Regions from separate parts of the Homo sapiens genome. Here region 2 is linked to region 1. Evidence: fine-mapped QTL for protein levels in blood plasma. A gene starts in region 1. The other region holds a variant in brackets. All regions are shown on one strand. Distances are between the middles of the regions.

Region 1 (15,106 bases):
CCTATGCTGCCTGAGGCAGGAAAGTCCATGCCTAAACTCTGGTCATAGTGCCTGCCCCACAGTCTAGCTGCCTTTCCCTTTATAAAGTTATTGCCTCAAGTCATGGGCTTAGTTCTCTCCTCCCCTGGCTGCCTGCAGCCAACCGAGAGAGTGGGCTGCCATCTCGCCTGGCCCTTTGTCCCCAGGTTGGCTGGCTTGTGGGGAGGATGGTCTTAAGTACTACTTCCTTCCCCCCTACCCCCCAGTCTGGAAAAAAAATTATCTGGCATCTACCCCAGTTTCCATCTGCTACTCTGTTGATTGGGAGATTGAGCCCATTCCCTGGTCTGCCCTCCTACTCAGCACCTGGTGACCTGGGCCCTATCTAGGTCCTTCTGGGGATGGTTTGGACCCAGACTTCAGCCACAGACAGGAGGCAGCAGTGCCAGGGTACATCACACAGAGAGAAGTCAAGGGTGTGGGTCCTTGAGAAACCACCTGAGTTTCAATCCGTCCTGCCTCTAGTTGTGCGATCCTGGCACTTCACATCCCTTGTCTGTGCCTTGATTTCTTCATTTGTAAAGGGAGGTGACTAATAGCTCCTATCTCATAGGAGTGCGAAGATTGAATGAGTTGGGAGAGGCTATGAGATGGCACAGCACATAGGAACCACAGTGTTAGCAATTGTTATTGCAGTCAGAAAACCCATCTTCGTTCTACCATTTACCGGTTGACCTCGGGCAGGTCCGTCCTTGTCCCTCCCTGTACCTCAGTTTTCTTCTCTGCAGTGGAGTTACGCTCCCTCCCTCAGTGAGAGGAAGAGAGTGGAGGACTGGCAGAGATGAGGTAGGTGAATGTGGGTTATGTGTTGTGAGTTGCCATGCACATGGGCAGTGTTATCATTGATTTTGAATCCATTTGAATTCTTAGTTCCAAAAGGCAGAGACAGGTGATTTCTTAGTTTGCCCTAGCTTTGCATAGAGAGGACAGACACTGAGGGCAATACCTGTCTAGCAGGTGAAACCGAATGTCCATCTTAGAGGCTGGCCTGGGCCAGGCTCCACTGCTGGCTTCAGGGCCACAGGCTTAGGTGCAGGCCTGAGGAGGAGCTCTTAGACTGTCCACAGCCTCCCTCTCTGGGGCAGTGTGCCCCTGTGTATCAGGAGGCTGTTGGCTTCACCCAGTGGGCCAGGAACCTCACTCTGCACTGTCTCTGGAGGTACCTTGAGTTTACCTTCCTGGCCTGCTGGGGTGCCTCAGGACTCTGAGGGAAGAAGGAGGGGACAACTGGAAGCAAAATGTAGAATGGTAAAGCCAAACTTCTTGGTAGCAAAACTTTCCTGGTTCCAGGAGGTAAAAACAACAACCAAATGGTCCTGGCCCCATGGAGCAGGGCAGAGGGCAGAGGGCAGCCAGCCCACCGCCTTTGCTGGTGTCTGCAGTGCGTGAATCGTGTCTAGGTCTGTGAGTTCTGAAGGTTGGATGTTCACCTCTACTCCTTCCTCGGCCTGTCTCCTCTCAGTGCAGCTAGACATCCAGTAAACACTAGATAAGTACTTACTGAGCTGGGTGGATTTTCCATTCATGGTTCCCTGGGGCACAAGTGGAAGTGGTAGGTCTGGGCCCTGTCTGGTCTAGAGAGAGGAGACCCTTTTACAAAGGGCAGGCACGTAGTTCTGAGAGGAGGAGCTGATGGCAGAGCTGGCTGGACTGCTCAGGTAACTGCAGAGGGTCTGGGCCTGGACCCCCCAAGGGAGTCCCCACTGAATGGTCAGGTTGCCTGAGATAGCTGAGCCCTAGGCACTTTGCGGGCAGAGATCCCCTTAAGCTGCTTTGACCCTCCCTCCCCCACAGTGAGTGGGGCACGGGGGATGCTCCCCTCTCTACTTGGGGAAGGGGCCTTCCTAATTATATCCCCCTCCACTCACATGGAAATGAGTTTGGATTTTCTGAGCGTACACCAGCTGGCTTGGGGGGAGGCAGCCCAGAAGGCTGCTGGCTGGGAAAGGGAGGAGAAAGGAGAGGGAGGGGAAGGAGCCAGGCCAAGATGAAAAATTTCCAGTGTTCTCCCAGGCAAAGCAACAGCGGGTCCCTGAGTGCTCCCCACATATCATCGTTGTGCCTGCTGGTAGGCTCAGCAGGGAGCCGTGTCCACTTAGGCGAACGCATCCTCCGAGGACCATAGTCCTCAGGGTGCGAACCACTTAGCTGGCCATAGCAAGGTTGTTGGGTGTTGGACTCCTCTGCGCCCTTGGAGAGAGGTCCTCCACGACTTCTACGCCAATCTTTTTACGGGGTGCGGGGAGTGGAACTGAGGCCCAGAGAGGGGATAGGGCCTGCCGCCCCTGGCAGAAGACCACAAGTCTGGCTTGTCCGCAGCTGGGCTTTCCCCGTAGAGTTGCCCGGGAGAGGGTGGCGAAGGTTCCCCCAGCAGTTCCGCTCTCGCTCAGGAAAGCCAGTGAGGCGAGAAAAGGCTGCGAGGGGCGGGGGGAGGGGCGGGGTGGGGTCAGCGCTGGCTCCGCCTCCTGGCGCTTGGGTCTGCCTGCGGCCGGGCGCTGGCTCAGTCTCGGCTGATTGCCGCTGTCGCTCCCGGGGCCACGGGATGACGCCTCCTCCGCCCGGACGTGCCGCCCCCAGCGCACCGCGCGCCCGCGTCCCTGGCCCGCCGGCTCGGTTGGGGCTTCCGCTGCGGCTGCGGCTGCTGCTGCTGCTCTGGGCGGCCGCCGCCTCCGCCCAGGGCCACCTAAGGAGCGGACCCCGCATCTTCGCCGTCTGGAAAGGTAGGCGGCGCCGCGCGGCCGGTCAGGCGCGGGATCAGACGCTGCGCGGGGCGGGTGCGGAGTGTGCTGCACCCGGAGGGAGTGCGTGCGCGCAGCTCTGCGGGTCCCGGGCTGTCCCCGCGCTGTCCCCGCGTGGAGCGTGTGGGTTTGGGTGAGTGTGTGTGAGTGTACACGCTGGCACACCAGAGCCGGCTGTAACGCTGCGGCGAGCGAGCGGCGGGGGCCGGAGCCCCGGCTAAGTCGCACCAAGTCCCTGGCAGCCAGGAGCCGCAACGCCCGGGCGCCAGGGGAGGGGGCGGGCCCCTCTCTCGGCCCCGAGCCACTCTGGGTCCTCTGGCTCGGGGGCTTCGGCGGAGGACCTTTCCCCGCCTGGGACCCCAACCCGGGTACCCTCCTTTTGAGCTGCGGGCTCTGCTGGCGCGCGGGGCGCAGGCTGGGCCGGCAAGGGGGGCGCGGACCCCTTGCCGCCGCCGCCGCGCTTCGGCAGCGGGAACAAAGACCCCGCCGCCTGCCCCCGCCCCCGCCCCGGCCCGGAGCTCGGGCCAGGCAAGGGGGTGGGCATCCTGCAGCGAGCGGCGGGACATGGTGCGGTGCGGCGGCTTGGGGTACCAGGGCGCTGCCTCAGCAATGCCGGGACCGGCCGCTCCCCCCTTGCCCGCACGTGGCAGTTGTCACCAGAAATCGGCTCCAGCGTTGGGGGGCAGTGCCCGTTGGGTGGGGCACGGCCGTTGGGACCCCCAGGCGGTGGATCTAGGGCGGGGGTGCAGCCTTTAGGCCAGGGTAGATAATAAGAACCTGGGGGACTGGAGTCTCCCCCAGGGCACCTCAGTTTAGACCCTGTACTATGGGACAGAAAGCCGGTTAGGCGGGGGTTTGAGGCTTTCTGCCGCGAGGAACTGATCTCCCCTCCCCTGCATTGCACACAAATGCCTCCCCGCCCCCAGTCCGATTCGGCTCTGTCCCCAAATTTGGCGTGTCTGCGGCCCCCCTGTCGTGATGGTGGGGGACTCGCAGTGGGGGCTGGGGGAACTGGTCGGGTCTGGCCCCACCGGGAGCCTTTTGATGCCTTTGGCAGTTTGCAGGGATTGCGGGAGTCTGAGCATTATCTGGGGCAGGTATTATTAGCAGAGGGGAAAAAAAACCATACACAAAACGAGTGGCCCGAACTGCCGCAGTAGCTGAGGGAATGTGACTTGCCCAAGGTCACTGAGCAGTGTGGGAGCCCAGGTGCAGGCAGGGGCTCTGATCTGGCACAGGACCAGTCCAGGTTCTGGGTTAGGGAGGGGAGAAGGATTTAGGTGGTTCAGGGACCATGAATGAGGTGCTCTGGGGACCAGCTCGGCTACCCAGCCTGAGGTGCTCCTGGAGGAAGCCGAGCAGTGCTGCTAGAGCTCCGGCCGCCTGTACATGGAGGAGGCCTGCACACCCCTCTGCCATCCCAGCTCCAGCCCAAGCTTCCTTTGCCCTCCCAGCAGCTTTGCCTTCCCTCAGTCTCCTTGGCTGTCTTGGACATCATAGCGTGTGGGCACTCTGGAGGGGACAAATGGCCACATCTGAGTGTTCTGGAATCTTTCCCTCCATCAAACCCCTTGCATTTTGACTCTGTTTGCCTGTCCCAAAGTCTTCCCATGACCCCCCACCCCCACCCCACTTAATGCACACCCACTTCTTAGCACTTAATGCATACATCCCATCCTGGGCACTTAGTTCCCACCCTGAGGCTATTTAAAGTTGCTTTCAGTCCTCTTACCCACTTTTCGAAGCTCCCAGCACAGCTCCATGGCCTACCCCCCCGCCCGCAGTTCACTGCTGTAGCCACACTGGCTGTGCCCTCTGCTTAGTAATGCACTGTTGAGCCCCGCTGGCTGGGGTCTGCCAACCGTTCACCAGTCTTGTCCAACGACAGTCTGTGGTCTCCTTCACCAGTGCCAGGTGCCCCACTGGCCAGACAGGCCCTGCCATTCACCTGCCCCCCACCCCCAGGGCCACCAGCTGGTGATGGTGTGCCCGACTGACAGCTGCCTCCTGTCTCCTGTGGGGTGACACATGGCAATCGGACAGGAATGGGCTTGGGTAGGACAAACCCAGGAACAGGGTAAGAGGGGGTCTTTCTGGAAGCCTAGAGCTCTGTCTACCAGTGGTGGGTGGGAGTATGGTGGTATCCAGGAATGACAAAATCAGGGATGGTGGTGGTTCTGGAGCCATTTCTCTATGAGGCATAGATGGGGGTTTTAGTTTTGAGTCAGGACAGCTGTGGGGACTGGAATAGGTATGGAAAGTTCTTTATTTTCTGCTGCTTGGATCCCCAAGTTCTAGAGAAAGATTAAAGCAGGGAACTCTGAGAGGGGCCCAGCCTGCACTGATCAGGGAGATTGCTGCCTCTGCAGCTTGATGAAAGTCTGGCACAGCGTAGCTCAGGCCAGGGAGAGAGATGGGCCATCATGTACCTGCTGGGTGTCCTTGAGCTCCACACTTGTCTTTGACCCTTAGAGCCTGCCAGAGCAAGAAAGGCTGTAGGGATTGTCCCCCAAGGGCTGTCACTGACACATGGGCCAGTCAAGGATGTGCATGTGTGGTCCTGATCTTCCTGTAAGCAGGAACTGTAAGGGAGTAGATTGCAGGTGAGGGCTGGGGCTTAGCAGGAGGTTGGCATGCGTTTGTAAGCTGTGCACCCCTCTTCCATTTTATCAGTGGTTGGAGGAGCTAAAGAAGGCTTGGAACCCCAAGGTCAGAGGTGAACCAGCCTGTCCATGGGGAAACAGAACCCATATCCCCAGTCTCAACCTGCCCGGCTGGTTCTGCCCTCCCTCGCTTTTGTCCAGTGAAACAACGGGATGTTATTGTTGACTTGGTGGCTGCTGGGGAGCCATTCTGGGGCTGCTCCCCAGGGCAGGAGGTTGTTGTTACCTCCTCCAGGGGATGAGGTCACATCTGGGGCTTCCCAAGCATCAGCATTTCCAGTGGAAATCCTTGCCCCCTTGGGGACTTAGATGTGTTCATCACCTTCAAGGTGAACTCCCTCCACAGAGTCTCATGGTGGGGGGGCAATTCCCCGGAGGAGAGGGGGAGTTTCCTAAGCCAAGAGAGATGCTTGGTGAGGTCACCAGGAGCTTCCTACCAAGCTCTGTGACCCCTCTGTCCTGGACAGTGAAGATTCTGAGAGCAGGTCCGGTGGAATGGACGCTGGCACAGGTCCAATGATGACCATGGTATAGGGGAGAGAGCTGGGAGGTCGGGAGCCTGGTTCAGGCTGTGACCTAATTTGCTCTGTGACTGGGCAAGTCTTTGCCTTTTACTGAACCCCAGTTTCCCCAAATGCCCAAAGAGGGTAGGGGAGGGGGCTCATCCTTTTCTGAGATTTAATGTCTTAGGATTTCTCTCTCTCTGGGATGGGAGGGGCTGGGCAGAGTCTGTGGTGGCCTGTTTAAATCTTAGATTTCGAGAAATCTGGAGGAGAAATTGAAACCTGGGAAGTCAGGGGAAACCCTTAAGTTCGCGTTCTTTCCTATCTTTTTCTCTCGTGGGCCAAAGGCTGAGGATCATTTGGAGGAAATGGATCATCAGCATGTGCCCTCAAGGGTGGACATATTCATTCAGCAAACATTTGCCGGGGCCACCCTTGTGCTGGTCTTGGGGATGAGCTTGGGGATCTGGTGATGAGGAACAAGATGATTCCGTGCCCTTGTAGACTTCTCAGTGTAGATGTAGATGGGCAGATAAACCTGCAGGTACAACAGAATGTGTAACAGAGAGCAGTTATGGGCACTGAGGAGATGCCTAACCCAATTTTCCCAATCAGGGAGGGCTTCCTGGAAGAGGGAGCAAGCTGAAATGGCAGGAGGAGGAGCCAGCTGGGGGAGGGAAGGAACAGGAGGAAGCACCCCACTTAGTAGGATTTTAAACCCAAGAACTTACAGCTAGGACCACAGAGAGGAGAGAAGCCATGTGAGGGGCCCCCATGTGAAGAGGCGTTGAGTCAGCCTGGGCCTGGGGGCTCCCGAAAAGTTTGAAACTTGTCCAGATGGGCATAGGTGAGGGGATACCTGTCATCCTATGACTGGCGCAGCAGTGAGGAGGAAGGACGCACCCACTGGAGAAGGGCCGTGGCAGGCAGGGAAGGCCTCTCGAGTGCTGGCAAGGCCATAGCCCCGTCACAGTTCCCTGGTGGGAGGCTGGCTCTGGGTCCAGGGAGACCATGGCTTTCCCCATTGACTCCTGACCGCAGGACAGTCTCCAGGTGAGAAGGTCTGTCCCTCAGCTCTGTCTTCTCCTGCTCTTCCTCTGCAGAGATGGAAGGAGCATGGAGGTGGCAGGGTGGGGGTGGCATGGATAGGTCACTATCTGGGCTGAGGGTGGCGCCCTGGGGGAAGCAGGGAAAGCTGGGCTCTGTTTTTTGAGGAGGGCCAAGCAAGGTGGGATGTGAAGCTCAGCCCAGGGGGCAGGTCTGGCAGCCCTCAGGGGGCAGTAGCTGGAGTAGATGGGCCACTAGCTGATAGCCTGTCCACCCCCAGCTTCACACGGCTCTGTCACAAGAGACTGACTGCACTTCCCCTGCTTTGGTCGGCAGCTCTGGACTGAAAAGTTTCCACTTCTCTTGATTTCCTTTTTTGGCCCAGCGTGGCTGCCCCAGGAGCCTTCCTTCGCCATGGTTGGGGGAGGAAGGGGCCCTTAACCTGTCCTGCCTTCAGAAGAGCCAGGGTTCCGTACCCTTGCAGGGAGGGCCAGCCACCAGGTGTATGGCCAGCTGTCCTGTCCTCAGGGAACCAGGCAGGCCAGAAAGAAAGCAGGGGGATGGAGGGCCACGGCACCTTGTTGGGCCCTGCCTCCTCAGAGGACAGAGTTCCCCCTTCCCTAGCCAGCCAGGCCTTGAGGGACTGTCCCCTCTCTGCCCCGAATGGTATGGGGTGGCTCTCCAAGCCCTTTATTCTCCCTGGCCCTGGCCTTGCCATCTCTCCAGATCTGTGCCCAGCCTCCCGGAGGACCTCTGTCCCTATGCTGCACCCCATCCAGAACACATGGCACACAGCTGCCGCCTTCCCCAGGCCCTGCATGGTGGCCTGGCCCCACTGCCTCCTAGACTCCCACAGTTCTTCCCTCACTGCTCCCTGGCTCCGCCTCCTCTCTGCACCCCACTCACCCTCCTCCTCCTTTCTGCCCAGAAAGGAGGCTGCTGGTTCTTTCTCAGTTCCTCTGAGGAACCTTCTTGGATGACCCCAACCCACACAGCCTGACAGCGCGAGCTTAGGATGTCAGAAAAGAAATGTCAGAGATTAGCTGGGCCAGCCAAACATTCCACAGATGGGGAAACTGAGGCTCAGAGATGACAGGGACTGGCCCGAGATCACCCAAAGAGGCAGAGCTGGGACCGGGGCTGAGTCGTCTGAGCCTGCTTCTGCCCCAGCTCTCAGCCTGTTTCCAGCTTTCTGTCTGCCATCATACTCTGTCCCAGGCTGGGGGCCCCTTCAGTGCCTTTCCTCCTCTGCTAGCCCAGTTGGGCCCAGACTCTTCCCGCCCCAGTGCTGTCTGTTCCCAGGAGCCACACCAGCTGTGAGTGTCCTCTCTTCAGGACCTTGGATTTGGACCAGCTCCATATACCTCTTCTGGTCTTTCCTCAGGTGGGTTGGGCCTCAGGTCCCAAGGACAGGTTGATCTGTGTCCCGGCTCGGGCTAATCAGGTTTTAACTGTCATGACAGCCTGGGATTATGCTGATCCTGCCATGCCTTCTGCACCCCATGCTTCCAGCCAGAGGCTTGGGCTCTGTGCCAGCACCCCTGGGTGACCCCTCATCATGGAGGGCAGCCAGCCTAGGTCTGTGTTCGGCTCCTCTGGGGGAGAGGCAGGAAGAGAAGCCCTGGGTTTGCCCTTGGGGAGCCCCCACATTCCTGGAGAGGTGAGTCTTCTGCCTGTGAAGTAGGGCGGACCCCTGGGGAGGTCAGGAATGACCTGCAGATGTAGCCTAGGACTGTGACAGGAGGTGAGAGCAGGAAAGGTCAGTGTGGGATGGTGCAATCAAGGAAGGCTTCCTGGGGGAGGAGGAGGAGCCAGGCTAGAGCTAGGGGCAGGAGCATAGGGTGGGGGCAGAGTGCAGCATAGACAGCTATTCATATTGTTGTTTGTACAGAGTCTCACGCCTGTAATCCCAGCACTTTGGGAGGCCAAGGTAGGCAGATCAGTTGAGGTCAGGAGTTCGAGACCAGCCTGGCCAACATGGTGAAACCCCGTCTTTACTAAAAATACAAAAAAATTAGCTGGGTGTGGTGGCACACGCCTGTAATCCCAGCTACTTGGGAGGCTGAGGCAGGAGCTCTGGCCCAGCCTGTCGAGGAAGGAAGGTCACTGTGATGACTTCTGCACTCCATTGGTGGCCCAGGAATCTGTTCTAAGATACCTGTCCCTCTGGCATGGGAGTTTGGCCTGCCCCAGTCTTGCTTCTCTCCACTGTCTGAGCTGCTCCCTGGGAATGGAAGACTTGGAGCAAGAGGAAGCCTGGTCCTCACCTTCAGGGCCCCATAGGCCAGATGAAATCCCATCAGACAGCATGATCTGAGCGAAGATGGTGGTGCCAGATGGTTTGTGGTACAAGGTCGAAGGTACGGGCAGTGAGGGCTGGAGCAGTCTGGAATACTTCCTGGATCCAAGGGATTTAGCTACATTTTCAAGGACAGGTAAGATCCATGTGCACAGAGAAAAGGAGGAAGGTCAATCCAGGGAGGGGAGAACAGGAGCAAAGTGCAGAGATGGAAATGAGCCATGGCAGAGCTGTGCAGAGATGAGGTGGGCCTTGACTGCCCTGCCCTGAGGTTTTGGGCCCTGCTTGGATGGGCAGTTAGGAGCCATGGTGGGTCCTTGAGCTGAGGAGTGGAGGTGAGTGTTTTCGCCAGGGCTGGCTGAGTGGGGACCTGGCTGGTGAGCACACTCTGCCCTTCACTGTGGTCAGCTTCAGAGCATGCAGTACTTTTTTTCTTAGAGACAGGATCTCACTGTCTCCCAGGCTGGAGTACAGTGGTGCATTCATAGCTCTCTGCAGCCTCTAACTCCTGAACACATGTGATCCTTCTGCCTTGGTCTCCCGAAGTGCTGGGATAACAGGCATGAGCCATGGCACCCGGCCCCACAGAGTACTTTATGTTCTGAGCGAGATCTTGGGAGACTTGTCTTTCTAATCAGTCACTCAGGACCGGGGCCCCACGCTGCACCTCGAGAAGATTCCTGCCCCACTGTTGTAACTTAGGATCTTTAAGATGGAGAGCACCTCTTCCATGATTAAGAGAGAGGCAGGTGGAAATAAAGATTTTGTTACTAACAGGTCTTGAGGGATACCTGGTGTACCTGAAGCCACACACAGGTGGAGGTCAGGGAGCATGTGCAGGGTGGGGGGATCTATGGGCCAGCATCTTTATGGGGTCCATGGTGTTATTAAAACAAGTTTTCCACAGGGAGTTTGTTTTGTTGTTGTTGTTGTTTTGAGATGGAGTCTTGCTCTGTCACCCAGGCTGGAGTGCAGTGGCGTGGTCTCAGCTCACTATAACCTCTGCCTCCTGGGTTCAAGCGATTCTTCTGTCTCAGCCTCCCAAGTAGCTGGGAGTACAGGCGCACACCACCATGTCTGGCTAATTTTTTTGTATTTTTGGTAGAGATGGGGTTTCACCATGTTGGCCAGGCTAGTCTCGAACTCCTGACCTCAAATGATCTGCCCACCTCAGCCTCCCAAAGCGCCGGGATTATGGGCATGACCCACTGTGCCTGGCCTCCATGGGGAGTTTTAATTGGTGGGTTTACAGCAAGCAGTCATGAGTTCCAGGAGGTCATGTTGTGACTTGAGACAAGGTCACTGGCCTATCTGCACAGTCCATGCGGGCTGTGGGACAAGGTCAGCAGGACCAATCAAGTGGGCTGTATGTAGCCATCCCACAGGGAAGCAGTCACCAGGAGACGACTGTCTACGGTAGATATCTGGATTGAGCACATGGAGGAACTGGGAGGAGGTGGGGAGCTGGAAACGGTGTCAAGGTTGACTGAGCCCTGCTTCTAGTGTGAGAAAACCCAGCTTATATTCAAAACGGATGCCAGGGCAACATCAAAGCATAGGAATTCACTACATTCACCTGGGCCTGCACACCTGTGCTCACTTGCACACACTGTCTTCAGGGTGTTACGGGCAGAGGTCAGGACTTCATTAGCCAAGTAGCCTCTAACTGGGCCTCACCCTCGGTAGGCTTTGGTCTCCTCATCTGTCTGGGAAGGGCTGACCTTGGAAGCCTCCAAGGGCTCATCTCTGGAATACGATGTTATAAGCACAGATTCTGGAGTCAGCTTGCCTGAGTATGAACCTCTGCTCCACCCCTTACTAGCTGTGTAATGCTGGGTAAGTTACTCAGCTTCTCTGTGTCTCATGGTCCTCATCTGCAAAATGGGGATAATAAAAGAACCTACTTCATGAGAGTTCAGTGATGATTAAATGAGTTAATATATCTAAAAATCATTTGGAATAGTGTTTGGCACGTAGTAAATGCGATGGAAGGGTTGGGTGGTAGGGGCATCATCATCGTCGTCATCATCTTCCTCCTCCTCCTCTGGCATCTCTGGTTTCTGATGGAATGCAGCCCTGGCAGCCCAGCCCCTGCCAGTTCTCCCTAATGGGCTTTGCTGGCTGGCTGCCCTTGCTCAGTCTCCCCTGCTGGTTCAGGCTAAGGCTAAGACTGGGGAACCTTCTGTTTCTCAGCAGTCTTCCACCTGCCTCCCTCCCTCCACTTGGGGTTGTGTAGCCATTCTCCGCCCTCTCCCCGACCCCTGCCCTGGCTGTGGGCCCAAGGGCAGGCCCTGCACCGCTACCCTTTGTCTGCTTTGAAGGAGCCACCAGCGACTTCGGCCCCACTCTGGGGCTTTTGGAACCTGCTGGGCTGGAGAACAGCTGGAAGGTAGATGGGACATGATGTTTGTCCTGGGCTTCCGGCCTTCCCTGGGCGTGGGCTCAGGGCATCTTACCCACTCCAGCTGGGCCTCAGTGCCAGCCTTCCTTCCCTGAGTCCCTGAATCCTGCTCAGCACAGCCTCTCACCAAGGGGCTTGCTTTCCACACTGTCCCTTCTCCCTAGGACTTTGCCCCAGACAGTCTCCCCAATAGCCAAACCTTCTTCTGGTCCTTTGAGCACAGTGGTGCCATGGGGAGAGCATCCAGACCTTGGTGGCTTGGAAGGGCATTAGTTTTCCTGTTTGTAAAACGGCAATACAGGTTGTCCTGCCTTCTTTGCAGGGTGGCTGGAGGTTTGGTGGGCTGGTCAGTGGAAGCAGATGAGAATGTCAGTTTCTTCTGCTGCCTCCACTTCCAGAAAACTGTCTGACTTCTCTGGCACTCAGAGAGTCACACTTTCCCAAAAAGACCCATGGACTTCACCCTGATTGTTTTGTGATTTGTTTCAAGAATCCTGGTGGGTCATAAAACCCAGGCCCAAACAAGTACCAGCACCCACCCTGACTCGCACCCAGCTAATCCACAGGGAGGAAAATGAACCCAGGAAGGCCCAGCCCCAATCACCGTCACAGCCAGCCAGCTGTCCAGCCACCAAAGAGATAATGAGGCTTCTTGGAGCCAGGGCTGAGCCACACATGAGATATACTCCCCTCCCACCCACAGCTGACCTTGGTGGGTGGGAGGATGCTCCCCTTTGGCCCAGCACACAGCTCGCTCTTCTCATAGCTCATAAACAAGTTAGACTTCTCAGTCCTCCATGAGCTGAGTGCTGTCTCGAGGCCCCACCACCTGCCCCAGCACACAGGCTCTGCCCCTGCCAGGCGACTAGCTAATCTAGAACCTAACCCTGCCTGAGAGTTGCCAGGACCCACCTGCAACCATGACCTATCCTTAGCACCGAGCCGGTGCCACCCTGGAAACCAGGCTTCTCACACCCTCTTCCTGGCCATATCAGGAGAGACAGAAACATTTGTTCCTGTATTCCCACCCCTAGTGGAAGGGTTTCCTCTACCACTCTGACATGCACGGCACCTACACTTCCACCATTAGTCACTCCTTTGGATTTAAGGCTTTGATCACTAAAGGCCCCTAGGAGATCAGGGCCTCACCTGGAAGGTGGGTGGGCGGGTGATTCCCTTTAGTTATCAGGTTAGTGACTCGGCACCTAGTGAGCAAGAGAGGGAAGGGTAGAGTAGGGATGATTCAGGGAAGTAGGGAGAGGCTGAATATACAGCTTTTTGCAAATCAGAGGCTCTCCAGGAAGCCCAGGATGTGATCCTGGAGAGAAGCAGCTGGGTAATGGGTACTGGAAACTTGGAGCTTCCCTCGCTCTGTGTCCTTGGGCCGGTGGTACAGCCTCTCTGGCCTCTGTGTCCTTCAGTTCAATGACTGTTTAGATCCTCTCCCTTCCACCTTGACATGTGGATGTGGGATTCCAAAGGGTGGAGAGGCTGCAGGCTAATTCCTAGGCATCACGTGGGCCTTCCCTCTACTCTCTTTTCCAGACACGTAGTTGGGCGAGGGTGTGAGGTAGGCCTGGCAGTGCAGGGGTGGGGGCACAACTGTGGGAGGACGCTCCTGCCAGATGTGCTGGCTCTCCAACCTGAGGTCGGCCTGCTTTCTGCTCTTTGGCCCGGGGCCTCTCTGACTGCCTGACTTAGGCATTCTCTGTGGGGGTGCCCACATTCCTGCCATTTTCAGAGCCTGACTCTCTGCCCACTTTCAAAAGGCTCCTTGAGGTTACATTCAAGGCCCACTGGGTCAGTGGGTCAGGTTGCAAGGCTGGCTTTGCCAGACCAGAGCATGGGACCCAGCCCCTTCATGGACAACAACACCTCCCACTCTGCCCTCCCCTGGAGCTGCACTCCTCTTTCACAAACAACAAGAGTATGGGGACAGCGGGCCAGACGGTGACAGCACCAGAGTGAATGAGAAGAGGAAACGTGCTCCACCAGGCAGGCCTGAGTTAGGAAATGCATGCCAGAGGCCCAGACTTGCCACAGTCGGTCAGCTGCTGGGGTGGTGATCGAGGGTAGGGTCCCTAAGGAGTCAGGCCCCATTCTTTCCAATGGGATCAGAGCCCTGTGAGCACCCGGCCCTGCGGCTGTGTCTGGTGGAGGTTATCTCCTACAACCCAGCCATCCTTGCAGCCCTCCTATCTGGCCGGAGCTGGGCCTTGCTGGCCCTGCCACCATGAGAAATGGTACTCAGGGGAACTATGGAGTCCGGCTGGGTACGGGGCAGCCTGAATGTGCTTTCTTGGTCCAGCACGAGTGAGGATTGGCTCGGAATCACATGGGGCGGGAGGTGGGTTGTCTTGTTCCTGGCCTGCCTCTGGGCTATGCCCTCCCCATATGTCCCTAGCCCCCTCCCCTACCTGAGCCCCTGGTTATTCTGGGAGCTTTTAGCTACCACTTAGCCACTAATGCGTCAGGCTGGGGAGTGAGGGGGGGACACGGTGCCAGACGGTGCTCCTTTTAGACAAGCAGGATGGGAAGCAGGGGGAGCCAGGAGGTGGGGGACGCCAGAGGATGGGGAGGCATTTTCCACTCCTGGCCCTGCTCGTAGGTTCAGGCAGCAGGGGAGAGTGGTGGGCAGTGGGTCAGTGTGTCCTTGGACAGGCTGCATCTTCCCTCCCCCATCACACGTGGGCCTCAGCTCACCTTCCCGATTCTTCTCATTAGGACTCTGCCAGGCTGCAGCGCATGGCCTCTGTCCTCCATACAGCCACCTTCCCCACCTTTGCTCAGGTTGCGTCCTCTGCCTGGCTTTCCCTCCCGGCCTGTTCAGGGCCCATCCAGCTTTTATCTACCTCACCTCTCCGTTTGGGTTCATAAAGCATCACAAAGAAAATGTTCAGGGATATGATACATACTCCCTTGGCCTGGCCTTTTTAGGGGTAGCCCCTGGCCTTGCTCAGCCCCTGCCTGGGCAGAGACTCGAGGCCTGGCCCTGATGGCTTGGTGCTGCCTTCACTTCCAGGCAGCCCTCCTGCCCCTTAGCCCCCAGCCCCCGCTCCTGCCAACCTGAACAAAGCTTCCTTTCATGTATTCATCGAGCTGCTGCTGCTCGACACTTCCCGGGCACAATCAGGCCTTTTGAGGGCCTCAGGCGGTGCGGGAGCCCAGGCTGGGGCTGGGGTGGAGAATGGGCCAAGGCCTTGTCCTGGGGCTGAGCTGGTGTCATTCCCTCTAGTCCATACGCATCACCAAGAACAGAGGTGGGAGGGCCAGGAACCTGGGGGTCATGGGAGGCCGTGGTCCTGGGCTCCTGTTCGTTTTCCTGCAAAATGGGACGAACAGTCCCTGCTTCCTCCACCCTAGCCATTGTGGCTAGGGTTTGAAGGGAACTGGGCTCAGGCTTGCAGATCCGCATG
Region 2 (15,449 bases), 29 kb after region 1:
AGGAGAGGCTGGGCTGGGAGGGAAGCCGTGTGCATTAAGGCATGAAATGAGCCCGTGTAAATTCCATGTAAATGAGCTGGCAGGGATGAGGCCAGCCAGGCACAAGCCTCCTGCCCTGTTTTCCCCAATGGACAAGCAGCACAGCAGGCCTCTAGCTGGCGGTGTGTGGGCAGGACGGTTAGGCTGGGCCCGGGTGGTGGGAGGATCTGCTCTAGCCATAACCACACGATATCCACAGTCCCAGCACTGGCTTCTTGAGGGCCAGGCCAGGGACCAGAGCCAGGCCAGGGGCAGGAACCAGGCCCATCCTTCTCCCCTCTCTTGTGCATTCTCGTTGGGGAGGAGGAAGAGGGACGAGACTGAAAGCTCAGCTCTCCTGGGGAAGGCAGCAGGGAACTGCAGATTTCGTTCTGCCTCCCTCCCACTTTAGGAATGTAGAGTCATTACGGTTTATCCCCCATCCACATGTCCTGTCATCCTCTCTCCCCGAGGGAAGGCTGCTGTCCTCTTGTCTCTCTGCTACATCAAATCATACCCTTCCCATCTCTCCTCAGACTTCTACCTTCCTTTGCTGGAACCGCTCTGCATTTGCTCCTGTGATTCCCTCCCCTGGAATGCCAGGAGGAAGATGCTCCCAGGCAAAGATTTCAGAATGACATGGAATTCTCCAGAGGAATCCTGGATCCCCCCTACACTAATGCCTCAGCCTGTTCACTCCTGATCTTTGGGAGGGTGCACCTGGAAGCAAGCTCTGGGGTCCCTGGGGGAGAAGGCACAGCCCCTGCCCTGGAGACACTTAAAGCCTGGTAGGGAAGGGCTGTGGGCTGGACAGTGACCATACGTGTGACGGTCCTAGGTGGGAGGTGGGAGCTCAGAGGAGGAACCTAACCCATTGAGCGGAGTGCTCAGGGAAGGCTTTGAGTAGGGCCTTAGAGGATGTGTAGAAGTTCCCCAGGAGGAGAGTGACTGAATGGAGAGGGAACAGCATTTACAAAGGCCTGGGAGTGTGAGAGGGCCTGGGGTGTTATGGGCTCGCTGGAGTAAAGTGAGCTCCATGAAGCCAGAAATCCTTGGCAGTTTTGTTCACAGCTGTATCTCTAGTACCTAGAACAGTGCCTGGCACATATTAGGTGCTCAGGACATTCTTACTGAATGAATGAATAAGATGAGAGAAGGGAGAGTATCTAGAGGTGAGACTGGATGACTCCAGCAGTTCCCGATCCTGGGAACTAAAGCAAGATCTTTATCCTGCAGACACTAGGGAGCAATTGAAGGATTTTGAGCAGGGGTGGGGTAGATGATAATGATAATAATGGTGAGGATAATGGGAGCCTGAGATCCGTGTTTTCTTACACCCCATCTCTTACACCAAAGACCCACTCCTCACCATTTCCAGGTGTTTCTAGCTCCTTAAATGGTCCAATTTTAGCCTTCTGCTTACTGGAAAAGAAAGTGCAGCCATCCTGGCTACAGTGCCAGACAGGAGGTCTGTAGGCTTGGGCCAGTGGAATGGGGCTGAAATGGCTAAATCTGGCTCGGAAACACTTTTATCTCAATATTGGTTAACTCTGGGAGGAAGAGACCTTGGGAGAAAAACAAAAACAAAATCCACATTCTCAGGGTCACCAATGGCCATGAGTCAGCCCCCACCAAGGGAAGGAGCACAGAACCACACTCGGGAGGCGCTGGCCCTGTTAGTATGCTGGGGCGTTTCTGTAGGGTGGTGTTCACACCAGAACCGCTGCACTCGAACCAAGTCAAGGTCCCAGAACTCTGGCAGTTCTTTCAAGTTGGGCAAAATAAATGAGCTCAGAAGGGCTTAGGTAGAGGTGAACACGTCCTTTGGGGCTGAGCCTATATCATGGTGGGGAAACACATGGCTTGCAGCTTGATTCAGCTGTAGCCTATGCCTGGAGCAGGCATTGCTGATCAATTGTGGCATTCCTTTCCTGAGCTCATATGAGTGATTTTCTTCAGAACTTGCATTCTCTGGGGGCTACTGGGCACTTGAAATAGGGCTCATCTGAATTGAGATGTGCTGTAAGTATAAACAACACACTGGATTTTGAAAACATAATATGAAAAAAATGACCTTAAATTTTTACATCGATTACACTTTGAAATGATAATATTAGAGGTTGGGCGTGGTGGCTCACACCTGTAATCCCAGAGCTTTGGGAGGCTGAGGTCAGTAGATCACCTGAGGTCAGGAGTTTGAGACCAGCCTGGCTAACATGGTGAAACCCTGTCTCTACTAAAAATACAAAAATTAGGTGGGCATGGTGGCGTGTACCTGTAATCCCAGTTATTTGGGAGGCTGAGGCAGGAGAATCGCCTGAACCTGGGAGGCAAAGGTTGCAGTGAGCTGAGATTGCTCCATTTTACTCCAGCCTGGGCAACAAGAATGAAACTCTGTCTCAAAAAAAAAAGAAAAAAAGAAATGATAATATTTCAGATATAAGATATATTTGGCTAGATAACATACAAAAATTAATTCCACCTATTTCTTTAACTTTTTTTGTTGTTGTTGTTTTGTTTTTTAGATGGAGTCTTGCTCTGTAGCACAGAATGAAGTGCAGTGGCAGGACCTTGGCTCACCACAACCTTCGCCTCCCAGGTTAAGCGATTCTCCTACCTCAGCCTCCCGAGTAGCTGAGATTACAGGCGCCCGCCACCACGCCCGGCTAATGTTTGTATTTTCAGTAGAGACGGGGTTTCACCATGTTGGCCAGGCTGGTCTCCAACTCCTGACCTCAAATGATCTGCCCGCCTTGGCCTCCCAAAATGCTGGGATTACAGGCGTGAGCCACCGCTCCTGGTCTTCTTTAACTTTTATCTAGTGTGGCTACTGGAACATTTTAAATTATGTGTGTGGCTCATATTGTATTTCTGTTGGACAACACTGTTACGGAATATCTGCTCTGCGGGGGCAGGGAATTTTGTCTTTTTTTGTTCACAGCTAAATTTCATAGCACCTAGAGTAGCACCTAGCACACAGTAGGTGGTCAGTAAATTATTTGTGGAATGAATGAATGGATCCTCACCAGCATTTCTCCTTAGGAGTCACCAGCAATTGATCAGATGGAACTTATTTGCTACCCCGAGCCTAGCGGATGCTACACCACAGTGCTAACAACCCCCGTTTGTGCTTTCTGACTTTAGAGCTTGTGTCGCTCTCCTGGGACTCTCCTGATACCCAGTGGGGCAGGTGAAAGTGGACTCTGGTGAATGCACTGCTCCGCTGAGGGTCTTCTGAAAGGGAACGTTTCCGTTCCTTCTGATCAGGAAGCAGGGCAGTGTGCAAATGGTATGGAAATCACTTCTTGTGGGTGTTTGCCTATCTAGGGTGCTGGGGATACTTCCAGTCCACTTCCTGACCCCAGCCCTTGGTCCCTAGAGACAAAAGAGGAAGCTCTGGAGACTTTGAGCTCTGGGGGCAGATCGGGGGAACTGGGGCCCCCTTAGTCTTTCCCCAGCGAATGAGGGCTTGTAGCCCAGAGCATCCTCATCTCTCAATTCAGCAGGAGCCTAAAAATAGTCTGCAGTTTCAGCCTCCCCCACAGCCGCCCGCGCCAAGTGGGGCCCTGCGCCCGGCAGCTCCTCCACAATCCAGACTGTCTGCACAATCTGCCCCAGCTACCGACCCCCATCTCCTCGGCGTCTGTCCCATCCTGGCCCCTGAGAACCCTGAGCTCAGCACTCCCTGCTGTGAGGCCTGCTGAGGGTCTGCTTCACACTCTGCCTTTCCTAACAGCCTGGGCCCTGACCCCTGGAATTCCAGACCCCATGTTTTGTCCACTCTCCATTCTGGAGGGGACGCTAGCCAGACACAAGTGGGGTGAAGGTGTTGCAGGTAATGAAACCAGCACATGCAAAGCATGGGGTGCGAGAGAGCACAACATGCCATGGAAGGGGTGAGCCGGAAGGGCTGGGTGCACGGGATGGAGTACGGGGGCCAGTCCCAAGCTGGAAGGCAGCACCGCAGGTCTGTTGGCTCCCACCCCACGCGTGGATGCCCTGGAGTAGATGATGTCTTCGTCCAGCCCACGGTGGAGCAGGACTGCCCCTTGGATCAAGTAGCCTGCAGTAGCTCTGGTGCCACCCACACCTTGTGTAGAGCCCAGAAGGAACGCTTAGGTGCCAGGGCCTGTCTCCCTGTTTTGGGTCCTCCACATCTTGTGGGAAGCCCTGGTGCCTTCCGGCTCTGAGCTTCTGGGGTTCCTGCCTGCTTAGCAATACAGGAAGTCTCCTCAATGAGGTCCAGCAAGGGGAATGCCTCGAGGCAACCAGTACCTTGGTGGCAGAGCTGGAATGAAACCCTCCATATCCTGATGCCCAGCTGGGACCCGTCCCTCCCATCAATGTCGGGCGACCACTGCTGAGGACACATCCTGGTCAGAACCTGAGATACGGGGCTTGGGGACCTGCCCTGCAGAAGGGTTTCCTGGTGGCAGGAGTGAGTGTGCAGGTGACACTGCTGGCCCATGACGGTTCCACATTCTGAGTGAGCAGGGTCCCAGCTGCAGGAAGTGGTGGCGGCAGAAGTCACAGTCACCTTCCTCTCCTGGGGGCCGGCTTTCGGGGAAGCCAGGGGAAATGCTGAGCTCATGGGCTGTTCTTCCCACAGCTGGTTTCCAAGGCCTTTTCTTGTCCCTGACATCTCTCCACAGCCTCACCACAGCCCTCAGAGGCGGAATGCCATCGTGGGCATTACTGTCCCATTAGGCAGAGCAGGTGCAAGGCCAGCCTCTTGCTCTGAGCTACCTGCCCCTTCAGAGCCTGGCCTAGAACCTGGACTCCTGCCTCTTCCCACCTCCACACAACACCCTCCCCCAAGGAAACAGGGGTGGGTGGAATCTAGAAGCTTCTCAGGTGAGGTGAAGGTGTTGGGAAGGCATTAGAACTTGAGGTTTTCTCACCTCCACCAGCCCCTCATTTCCCAGCAGATGTGAGACCTCCTTGGTGTGCATGTCAGCCCGTGATAGGTCAGTCTCAGGACGTTTCCCCCAGCATGGGGCCTGTCAGAGGAGCTCCCCCTCCCCAGCCACCACAAGAGCCCAGTCACTGGGAGCGCCCCTGCACCCTGGAAGGCATCCGAGGGATCCAAGCCCATTCCTCAGCTTGAGGAAATGGCAGCCCCTGCAGAGGGCCCTGACTGGCCCTGTGAGTGTGGAGGTGGGGGCGTCCTAGCCCTGATACATCCTTTCCTGAACTCCACCCCAATCATGGGTATAAACACAGGCAGAACATCAATGAAGTGAGAGGAGAGTTGTCTGCCTTGGCAGCCAGCACCAGGGAAGATGGAACTGTGGCTTGTCTACCTGTCTGGCCTTCTGTTGTTCTCTGTCTCAGTCTCATTCTGTTTCCCTGTTGGTCTCTGTTTCTATTCTCTCTCTCTCTGTCTCTCCTTGTTCCTATTTCTCTCTCTGGCTTGACCTCTTATGCTCACTTACACAAAACAAGCATGCATATATACAACAGGTGGGCACATGGGACCACACGTATGACCTGCTCACCCATACACACGTACAAACATGCACATCTGTGCACACATGCATCCACACAGAATCCTCCCTCCTCAGATCCTGTATGTATATTCAGAGAAGGGGGTGGTGGTGAAGCTCTCTTTCCATGTATCCACAGGCTCAGGGAGAACCCACAGTTAATTTCCAGGCTGTTTCTGCCTCCCTGTCACTGGCAACTGGGAGCTTGGAGGAATAGGCTGGGATCCCCACTGATATCTGGGACTCTGGTGGGGATCTCTGGGCCATCATAACCTGCCAGTGAAGAGCATGAGAGGGGAGGGGGAGTCTCCGGAGGTGAGCAGAAGGGACGAGATAGGAAGATGAGATGTTGAGTTAGCAGTGCACTGGCCTGGAGGGCTCTCTGGCTCCTTCCCCTCCTGATGCTCTTCCTGGTGGTCCTGCTGAGATGCCCTATGACCCACCTGAGAGCTGGGGACCAGGGACGACTGGACCACAGGAGGCCCCAGAGGGAGGCGCCTGCAGGGAGGGAAGCCTCCTCAGTCATTTGCCCCACCCACAGAAAGCTGGAGGCTGGACGTCCCTAGGGTGTGTGGCCATGAGGAGAGAGCCTTTATTCCTGTCCTTTCAGGACAATGGGCCAGATGAGGCCCCACCAGGTACTTGGGTTTCCTGGGTGGGTCGGGGCTTTCCTGGAATGCTCAACCTTCCTGGTGTCCCAGGGTTGAGGTAACTGCATGGGAAGAGGGTAGGCAGGAAGCCCTTACGGTCTGTAAGGACCTGTCCTGCCCTGGAGTCTGGGTTCAGGTGGTCATCAGAGCCTGCACGCCTCCACCACTCTCAGCATGTGGGCCTGCTCCCTGTTCAGAGCAACCCCCTTACTGAGCACCTGTGTGGTGCAGGCTGTGCTGGGAGGAGGCTTGTGAAGAGCAGGTGAGCTAGGACTGGGCACCAGAGAAGGAGGAGCCCCTTTCGCTGCTGGGGCAGGAGCTAGAGCCCCCACGGGCATGTTTTGGTGTGGGGACAGATTCAACAGGAGCCCAGGGATCTTTCTGAAATGTGACACTTGCCTCCACCCTCCTTGCCAGAAAGGGACATTGCTCAGCCACCTGGCTCAGCTTCAATAAGCAAGTAGTAATAGTGGTGAACAAAAGCCAAATGCGTAAGTCACGCACCTGCCCGGGACTGTTCTGAAACTTTGTGTGAATTGTCTTGGTTAGTTTTCTCACCAGCCCTTTGAGGTTGATACTATTACTATTGTCTCCATTTCATAGTTCAAAGAACTGAGGCTGAGAAAGAGTAAGTAGTTTACCAAAATTTCACAACAAAAAGATGCATCTAATCTTTGTCCTCAAGAAACAGGGGTTCTACTTTTACTTTTTTTTTTTTTTTTTGAGATAGGATCTTGTTCTGTTGCCTAGGCTGGAGTGCGGTGGCACGATCTTGACTCACTGCAACCTCTGCCTCCCGAGTTCGAGTGATTCTCTTGCCTCAGCCTCTTGAGTAGCTGGGATTACACCACGCCTGGTTAATTTTTTTTTTTTTTTAATTTTTAGTAGATACGGGGTTTCACCATGTTGACCAGGCTTGTCTCAAACTCCTGACCTCAAGTCATCCACCTGCTTCAGCCTCCCAGAATGCTGGGATTACATGTGTGAGCCACTGTGCCCGGCCCAAGCTCCTGCTCTCTTTGCTGGGTTCGCGGTTAATACAAGTGATACACACAGCAGAGAGAAGCAGTCAGGTGGGCCACTCTGGCAAAATGGCAAAGATCAGGTCTGGGACAGAGTCTGCCCCAGTGACCAGGGTTCCCTACACAGAGTCCATTAGCACCCGAGTCTTGGACCTCAGAGGAAGATGATGGGATCACTTGTTCCAAGACACCCTGAGGCTCTGAGACAGGGAGGTCACCTGTCAATCTGTCCTACTTGGGACCGAGGTGGGCTGAGAGGCCCTCTGCTTGGGCTGCAGGGCCCCTGCAGGGGTTGAGGATCAGCTTTCTCCTCTCATTGGTTCCTGCCAGAACCATCTTAGGGAGCAGCTGCTGTGGGGGCTGCTCTCCCACAGCAGGGAACCCACATCCTGCCCCATTACAGCAAAGTGAGCATCCGGT[G/T]GGGGAAGGACCCCCACGGGGGGCCTGAAGCTGATGAAAGTTGAGTCAGGGTGACTCAGTGGAAGGCCTCTTCCCACTGCTGTCTCCAAGTGGAATACTGTGGTCAGACCAAAGGAAGAACTTCCCAACCTCTGGTCCCACATCTGGAATGCATGCCAAAAAGGGGTCTCTGAGAGAACATGGCAGTTTGGCAGTTCTCAGGCTCTGTCATGCTACATACTGACCTCAGAAAGACCCCGGGAGGCAGACTGCAGATGGGGAAACTGAGGAAAGGGACAGGACCTGTACCAGAGCTGGGACTGTAGCTGGACCTTGAGTCTGCTCATCATGGGGGCACCTGCCCAAGGAGAGGGCAGCACCCCACTGCAATGCCCCCTATGTTTCCCCAGAGCCCCTCTCCTCCCATCTGCTCCTCAGAGGCCTTGTCTCGAGGTAGGAGTGGAGTGAGGGGGTGGGGGTTTCCCTGAGCAAAGAATAGTTCTCCTGTAGGATGCTGTTTTAAGAAACACACAAATAGACAAGCCACCCAGCCAGTCAGACAAGTTTGGCTTTCCAAACCTGTCCCTGGGGTGGCTGTTGTTGCCTTTTTATTTATTTATTTATTTATTTATTTATTTATTATTTATTTATTTATGTATTTATTGAGTAAAGGTTCATATAACACAAATTTTGCCATTTCAAAATGCACATTGCAGTGGTTTTGAGTATATTCATAATGCTCTATGACACCTACCTCTAGCTAACTCTGGAACATTCCATCACCCCCAAGAAACCTCGTGCCTGTTAGCAGTTACTTCCCCTTTCCTTGTCCCCCAACTAATGTACTTTCTGTCTCTATGCATTTGTCTCTTCTGGACATTTTTTAAAAAATTAAATTAAATAATTTATTCAGAGATGAGGTCGCGCTATGTTTTCCAGGCTGGATTCAAACTCCTGGGCTCAAGTAATCCTCCTGCCTGGGCCTCCCAAATAGTTGGGACTACAGGCGTGAGCCACTGCATCCAGCTTCTAGGCATTTCATATAAATGGAATTGTACATGTCACCTTTTGTGTCTGACTTCTTTCACTTAGCATACTGTTTTCAGGGGTTATCATGTGGTAGCCTGAACCAGGACGCCCCATCTTCTCACTGCTGAATGAGAGCTCATTGTGTGGCTAGGCCATGTTGCTTATCTGTGCCTCAGTTGATGGACATGGACATTGTTCCCACTTTTCGGCTGTTATAATAATATCCAGAATAACGCTGTATGAATATTTGTGTACAAGTTTTTGTGTGATCAGATGTTTTCAACTCTTTGGAACATCTATTTACCTGGGAGTGGGACTGCAGAATCCCATGGTAACTCTGTGTTCAACGTTTTGGGCAACTGACAAACTGCTTTCCACAGAGGTGATACCATTTTACATCCCCGCCATCAGAGTGTGAGGGCTCTAATCTTGCCACAGTCTCACCAACACTTGTTATTTTCTCTGCCTTTATTCTTTCAACACACACACACACACACACACACACACACACAGAGAGAGAGAGAGAGAGAGACATTGAGACAGGGTCTTGCTCTGTCACCCAGGCTGGAATACAGTGGTGCAATTTTGGCTCACTGCAATCTCCGTCTCCTGGTCTCAAGCAATCCTCCCACATCAGCCTCCCGCGCAGCTGGGACTGCAGGTGCATGCCACCACACCCAGATAATTTTGTGTATCTTTTGTGGAGATGAGGTTTCACCACATTACCGAGGCTGGTCTCGAACTCCTGAACTCAAGAGATCTGTTGGCCTTGGCCTCCCAAAGTGCTGAGATTTCAGACATGAGTCACTGTGCCTGGCCTTCAACACATATTTTGTTGAGCCCCTGCTTGGTGTCAGGCCTGTGCTGGGGTAGGGGATGCAGGGGTCCAGGCTGCTCTTGCAGAGCCAAAGGGACATAGATGTGACCCAGTGGTGGCTGGTGCTGAGTGGAGGGAAGGAGGAGGTGAAGTGATGGGAGTGACCTGCATGGACAGTCAGGGCAGGCTTCAGGGAGGCAGCGTTTGTGCCCTGGGAAGGTCTTGGCTGTTACTGTCCAATCCCAGCCTCTGTCCCTTCCCAAGTCCCCAGGATGAGTGGTAGTCAAGGTGCTGGGTGCCTCAGTGTTATAATGTGAAAAGTCTCAGCCTGGCCTGAAACTCACCCATTAGAGCCCTCACCTGCAGATTCTATGCCCACAGCCCAGGCCAGATGAGGAAACTGTGGCTCAGAGAAGGGAATGACTTCCCAAAGGTCATCCCAAAAGGTAGTGGCAGAGGGAGACCAGATCCCTGATCTACAGATGCCCAGCCTGGGGTCCTTTTAGCTCTGATGGGGTGAGGCCTGGGGCAGCATGAGGCTGGGAGCAGGGAAGATGGGGGAGGGCAGGAGGCTGAGAGAGCCCAGGTGAGAGAGGGCCAAGCTTGAAAGGTTTTCCCAGGCTGGGGGAGAGGCCCTGGTCAGGATGTGTATGGGTAAGGGGTGAGATACAGAGGTCCCTGGGGCGGGCCCAGACCTGTTTCTCCTTTGCCCAGTTTCAGTTCTGTTTTGCTTGTCCCCTTCTGTTTTGCGTTCAGAGTGGGTTGGGGTGGTGGTGGGGTGACTCTTAGCCCCCATCTTGATCCCCATGGTGGGGGATGAGGAGATGGGCTTAACTCCAGACACCACTTTCAGTCCCCCTTTCTACCCCCACCCAGGGTCCCCCAGTCTAAGGGCGGATGCGGGAGGCCTGGCTGGGTCCGTCCTCACAAGGAGGGGCAAGCTGGGCAGAGCCTGGCTGGCCTCCCCTGCTGCCATACCTTGGAGCCCACAGCCTCCAGTGGGTAGTGACTGGCCCCAAATCTAGACATAGGTAATGTTTGCTTAGTGAGCTCATGTGCTATGGGACTAAGTTGAAATGCTCTGCCCCTTACTCATACACCCTTATTGACTCACAGGTCCCCAAGGTGAGTCACGCCCACATCAGGTATTGTGGGTGTATGAGACATACACCCACTGCAAACTGGGATGCAGTTTCCAGTCCCCCTGCCAGCATGCTTAGGGCACCAGGAAGGGCAGTGGGTGCTGATGGGCCCCAGATTTACCAAAGATGACTCCAGTTGGAGGCCTTGGACTGCTGTGGGCTTGTCAGGGGCCTTTGTGGCCCTGGGAGGAGGTGTCTGGGGCTGCTCCAATGTCTTTGGGGTCTCTCAGGTTGGGGTGGATCCTTTGGGAGTGCTGGGCACTGGCAGAGACTCAGGCCGCAGGGAGGGGACTTGCTTTCCCTCTGGCTCCCTCAGGAGGCCTCAGCTGCAGTGCTGGGTGCTGGCTGTCCTCAAACCCATGTCCTCCAGCCCCCTGACGTCTTCTCATTTCCTCATCTCAGGTTTCAGCCCACTCAGGCTGACGTTGCCTTCTGATCTCGTTTTTCAGCAGCCCCCAGGTCTCCGTGGCTGCTGTGCAGAAACGCGAGTGGTTGGGGGAAGTCCACATGATGCTGGCCTTGAAGAGCCTCCTGCCAGCCAGGCCTCAGGAGGGCTCACTTCCCCATTGCAGAACTCCTGCGGAGACCCAGGGGCAATTTCTGGTCTTTAGCACAGGGCCTCTGAGGGGCTGGCTTTTCCTAGGGGCTGCCCTGGTGCTGTGGCACCGTGGGGTGGGGGATTTCGGCAACGCCAGGGGCTCGACATGGCTGAAACTTCTTTGGACAGCTCAGCTACCCCAGGTAGAAGCCTCTGTCCCTCCCGGAGCCAGGCCTGTCCCAGCTTCGAAGTCAGATGTTGGGACATGCTGTATGCCTTTGGGACGAGTAGCCCCGTGGGCTCAGAGCTCTGACAGTGAACCCAGATGGGGTTGCTGTGAGGCACTGGGCGGGTCTAAACAAACAAGGTGCTGTGTGAGTGCATAGGTGCGAACAGGCTGCTCCAAGGGACTCTTGAATTGTCTTTGCGGACAAGTGGGAGTTAGCTGGAAAAGAAGGAGCTGCGTGGTCAGAGGCGTGGAGGCAGGCAGTGGAATAACCCATGTGGAGAACTGCAAGCATTTCCACATGACTGACTGGAGTGTGAGGGGGTGTAGGAGACCGGAGGGCAGGCGGTGGGCAGGGGGCTGGAGAAGGACCCTGAGGGCTCAGCCAAGGAGCAGGACTTTTCCTGAAGCAGCAGAGGCAGAGAGCCAGGCCCCTCCTGAGCCCTCTCACTTCTGTGCAGGGACACCTCCCAGTGAAGTAGGCCTGGGCCTCAGAGGCACCCCGACCCTGGCTGCTGACTCAGCTCTGCCTCTGTGAGGGCCAGTGGGGGGCTGCCCACATGAGCCACGGAGCCATGGCATGGCCTGGGGCTGGCTCTCCTGGGCTGCCCTCCACCCAAGGTCTTGAGGTTCTGCCATTCCCTCTTCAAGGGGTCTGACCATGCAGCCCTAGGTGGGGACGGACCCTGTAGCCTGCTCACTGGTGCCTGGGGTGCCACTGCCAGTCCTGCTCTGGCGCTGATGGGGAGGCAGAGGCAGCCGCCAGAGAGAAGATCCCAGGTGGGGAGAATGTGGGCAAGAGGCCATGCTCCCTCCTGCAGCCTTCATGAAGGCTCAGAGTGTTCTGGAAGTGTTTGGGGGCTGGCCTCATCTCCTCGGCTAGCTCCAACGCCTCCCGGCTCGGCCCCCACATATCACGCTCAAGTGGACCGATCCTGACTGAGGCAGAAAGTAGAACTGGCCCCTCACCATGCGCTCCAGCCCTACTGCTGAAGGAGGCAGGATGGCACAGAGGTGAGGGCGTGAATTCTGCATCACTCAGACTTGGGGCTAGATCCTGGGTCTGGTGGGGAGCACACTGGGCTGGCAAGGCCCGTCGTGCTTTACTAGCTACCTTTGACCCAGTAATCCCACTTCCAGGAGTCTGTCTTACAGAGACACCCGAACGAATATGACAGATGCACACACACCAAGCTGCATACTTGTGATGGCAGAAGATCAAAAACATTAATAGCCATCAGCTTGGGACTGATATATCCCAATGGTATGTCCCCATGATGGAATTCAAGACAGCTCTAAAAAGAATGTGAGACTGGGTGCGGTGGCTCACGCCTGTAATCCCAGCGCTTTGGGAGGCTGAGGTGGGCAGATTACTTGAGGTCAGGAGTTGAAGACCAGCCTGGCCAACATGGCAAAACCCTGTCTCTACTAAAAATACAAAAATTATCCAGGCGTGGTGGTGTGCACCAGGTACTCGGGAGGCTGAGGCACGAGAATTGCTTGAACCTGGGAGGCGGAGGTTGCAGTGAGCTGAGATCACACCACTGCACTCCAGCCTGGGCAACAAAGCGAGACCCTGTCTCGAAAAAAAAATCTGAAAGTTTTCTGTGTATGAAAGTGCAAAAAAGCTCTGGGATTTCTGTTAAGTAAGAAAGCAAGTAAAAGTCAGTGAAGAGTAGAGAAAACACCCAATGCCCAGGCCAGGGCAGGAGGCAGCATGACGGGCTCAGGAGGCCCTGGGGAGTTTGGTGGGACCGGGAGCAAGAAGGGACAGACCAGGCAAGTGAGAAGGAGACCAGCTTGGGAGGGCCCCTGGGTGCAGAGAAGAAACTGAAAACTACCAGGAGCCAAGGGACAGTTTTCAGCAGATTCGGATCTCCTTTGTCTGGTACCAAGATCTGGCAAGTGTAAAGCAATAATCCACATTTATAATGTGCTTTGCATGCAGCATCTCATTTAAACCTCTCAGCACTGTAACCCCTATGAGAGAAGTGCTATTATCACAACATGTGGAACTGGAGCACAGGAAGGTTAAGGAACCAGTCCAAAGTCACACTGCTGGTAAACAGCAGAGCCAGAGAAAGGACCCTGAGCCCACGCCAGAATCACCTTGCTATCCTGCCTTTCACAGCGGTGTTGGATTGGAAGGGGATTGCTGGAGACCGGGGACAGTCAGGGGCTGTTATGAGTTGGGGACCCAGACGAGAAACAGTGAGGGCCTGGGGAAGGCAGCGAGTTTGGGTTGGGGATTCAAGTGTAGATTGAAAAGCTCTGAAGGATGTGGGAACGAGACCTGGTGGTGAGTGGGGCCCCTAATCCATTCACTCATTCATGCAGCAAAAGTATAGAGTGCCTACTGGGTGCCAGGTACTGTCCTGGGAGCTGGGCTTACATCAGTCACCAAAACCAACAAATGCCCCTGCCCTCAAGGGGCTTTCCTTCTAGCTGATGGAAACAGACAATAGTAATAGACATAAGAAATATGTAATTAGGTAATCTGTTAGAACCGTGGAAAGCTAAAGTAAAGGTAAGGGGGATTGGCAGCCCGTGTCCAGGAGACATCTGAAGTTTTAAGTGAGGTGGTCAGGGAAAGCGTCATCAAGAAGGTGACATTTGAACAAAGACTGAAAGAAGGTGAGGGGCGAGCTGTGCAGGTGTTTGGGGAAGGGCACTCCAGGCAGAGGGAACAGCCAGGGCAAAGGCCCGGGGCTGGGGCGTGTCTGGCGCGTTCGAGGAACAGCAGCGGGGAGGCTGTCACCCCTGTCCATCAGTGCCTGTCTCTTCTTCTGGAAACAGGGAAGGGCTACACTTCTTCCATTTGGGGTTAGGCCCAGCTGTGTAATCTGCTTTGGCCAGTGAGATACGAGTGGAAGAGATGCGTGCCACTTCCGAGCTGAAGCATGCAGGAGTCAGCGAGTGATTCCACATTCCCTTCACCCTGCCTGGAAGCAGGTGATGCTCCAGATGTCCCCGACATGGTCATGAGAGAGGACGATGCAGCGTAGCCCTCCCTGCTGACCCTCATGACGTGAAGCTGGAATGAGAAATGCCCCTCTCTGTTTTAAGGCCCAGTGAGTAGGGATGGTCACCACAGCACACCCCAGCCTGCCTCAACTGATACCCCAGGGGAGGCCTCTGCAGTGCAGCCAGAGAGAGGAGGGTGCAGGGAGGAGAGCAGAGGATGCAGGCAAGGAGGCCAGGGCACGCAATAATTCCCCGGCTTTTCCTGAGAGCGACACAGGAGCCATTGGGAAGCGTCAACTGGAGAGGTGCGATCCAGTGACATATCTGAACAGGACGGCTCTGGCCACTGTGCTGGGAACACCTGGGGGCAGGAGTGAAAAGGTGGGAGCAGGGAGACCAATTAGGAAGCTCCTGCAATGATCCAGATGAGAAATGATGGGGGCCTGGCCCAGGGTGGGGGCGGCAGTCTGACTCTGGGTCTCCTTTGAGATTAGAGCAGTAGGGTTTGCCAGTGGATGGGAGAGGGAGAGGGGTCTGGGATGCCTCGAAGGCTTTTGGTCTGAGCATCAGGAAGGAGAAAGCTGCCAGCCGGGGGTGGGGAGAATGCGGTGGTGGGGGAAGCGGGTTGGGGTGCTGTGGGGAGCGGGAGCTGGAACGGCTGAGATGCTTGTTATACATCCAAGTGGAGTGTCATGTGGGCGGCTGAGGAGAGGCCTGGCTGGGGGAGGGAGGACAGTCAGGCGTCTGTTTGGGTGTGGACAGTACAGACAGCATCTAACGGCTTGAGACTGGATGAAATCAGGAGGGGTGAAAGCTGGTGCCCCTTTCAGCATCTGGGCTGAGGACAAGGGAGAGAGAAGGGAGGGCATCTCAAGGGACATCCTGGAGGTGGTCTGGACCTCAATAGCCAGAGGGTGGGGGGCTTGAGGATGCAGGAGGAGGGGCAGGCTAGGGGTGGGAGAGGTCTGTCTCCCAGGGTGGAGGCAAGGGAGGGGAGAAAGGCCAAGGACAGACCCCTGGGTGGGGCTTCTTTGAGGGTGGCCCCAGGAGGAGGAAGTGGAACCTTGAAGGGGACAGTGATGGAGTGGGCAGGGAGGTGACAGGAAATCTGGGTGGGCGTTTCAGGAGCCAGGAGTATGGGCACATGTTTTAAGAAGA

Evidence for each region. PIP is the chance, under the fine-mapping model, that this variant and not a neighbour inherited with it causes the effect. Protein levels are from antibody-based Olink assays in UK Biobank. Linkage for the fine-mapping came from a reference panel and not from the study's own genotypes, which makes the PIPs less certain.
Region 2: its variant is fine-mapped to the plasma level of the SEMA7A protein (UK Biobank, PIP above 0.99).

What each region holds. Positions count from the first base shown.
Region 1 is chr15:74,421,394-74,436,499 of GRCh38, reverse strand. It overlaps SEMA7A (semaphorin 7A (JohnMiltonHagen blood group)), which reads left to right and starts at 2,542. Exons shown (of 14, transcript NM_003612.5): 1 at 2,542-2,759. The coding sequence starts at 2,582. RefSeq lists silencers at 2,400-2,909, 2,960-3,109, 3,260-3,379 and enhancers at 6,559-6,658, 6,699-6,778, 7,399-7,488, 12,382-13,012, 13,278-13,572 and 1 more.
Region 2 is chr15:74,392,219-74,407,667 of GRCh38, reverse strand. It overlaps LINC02255 (long intergenic non-protein coding RNA 2255), which reads right to left. Exons shown (of 4, transcript NR_146881.1): 4 at 12,912-14,361. Among named protein-coding and RNA genes, the nearest start is that of MIR6881, 11 kb to the left of the region's middle. RefSeq lists enhancers at 3,667-3,936, 3,977-4,066, 3,616-4,581, 4,197-4,726, 4,947-4,996 and 15 more, a silencer at 4,492-4,701 and a cis regulatory region at 14,780-15,334. The variant G/T (reference allele first, on the strand shown) is at 7,597.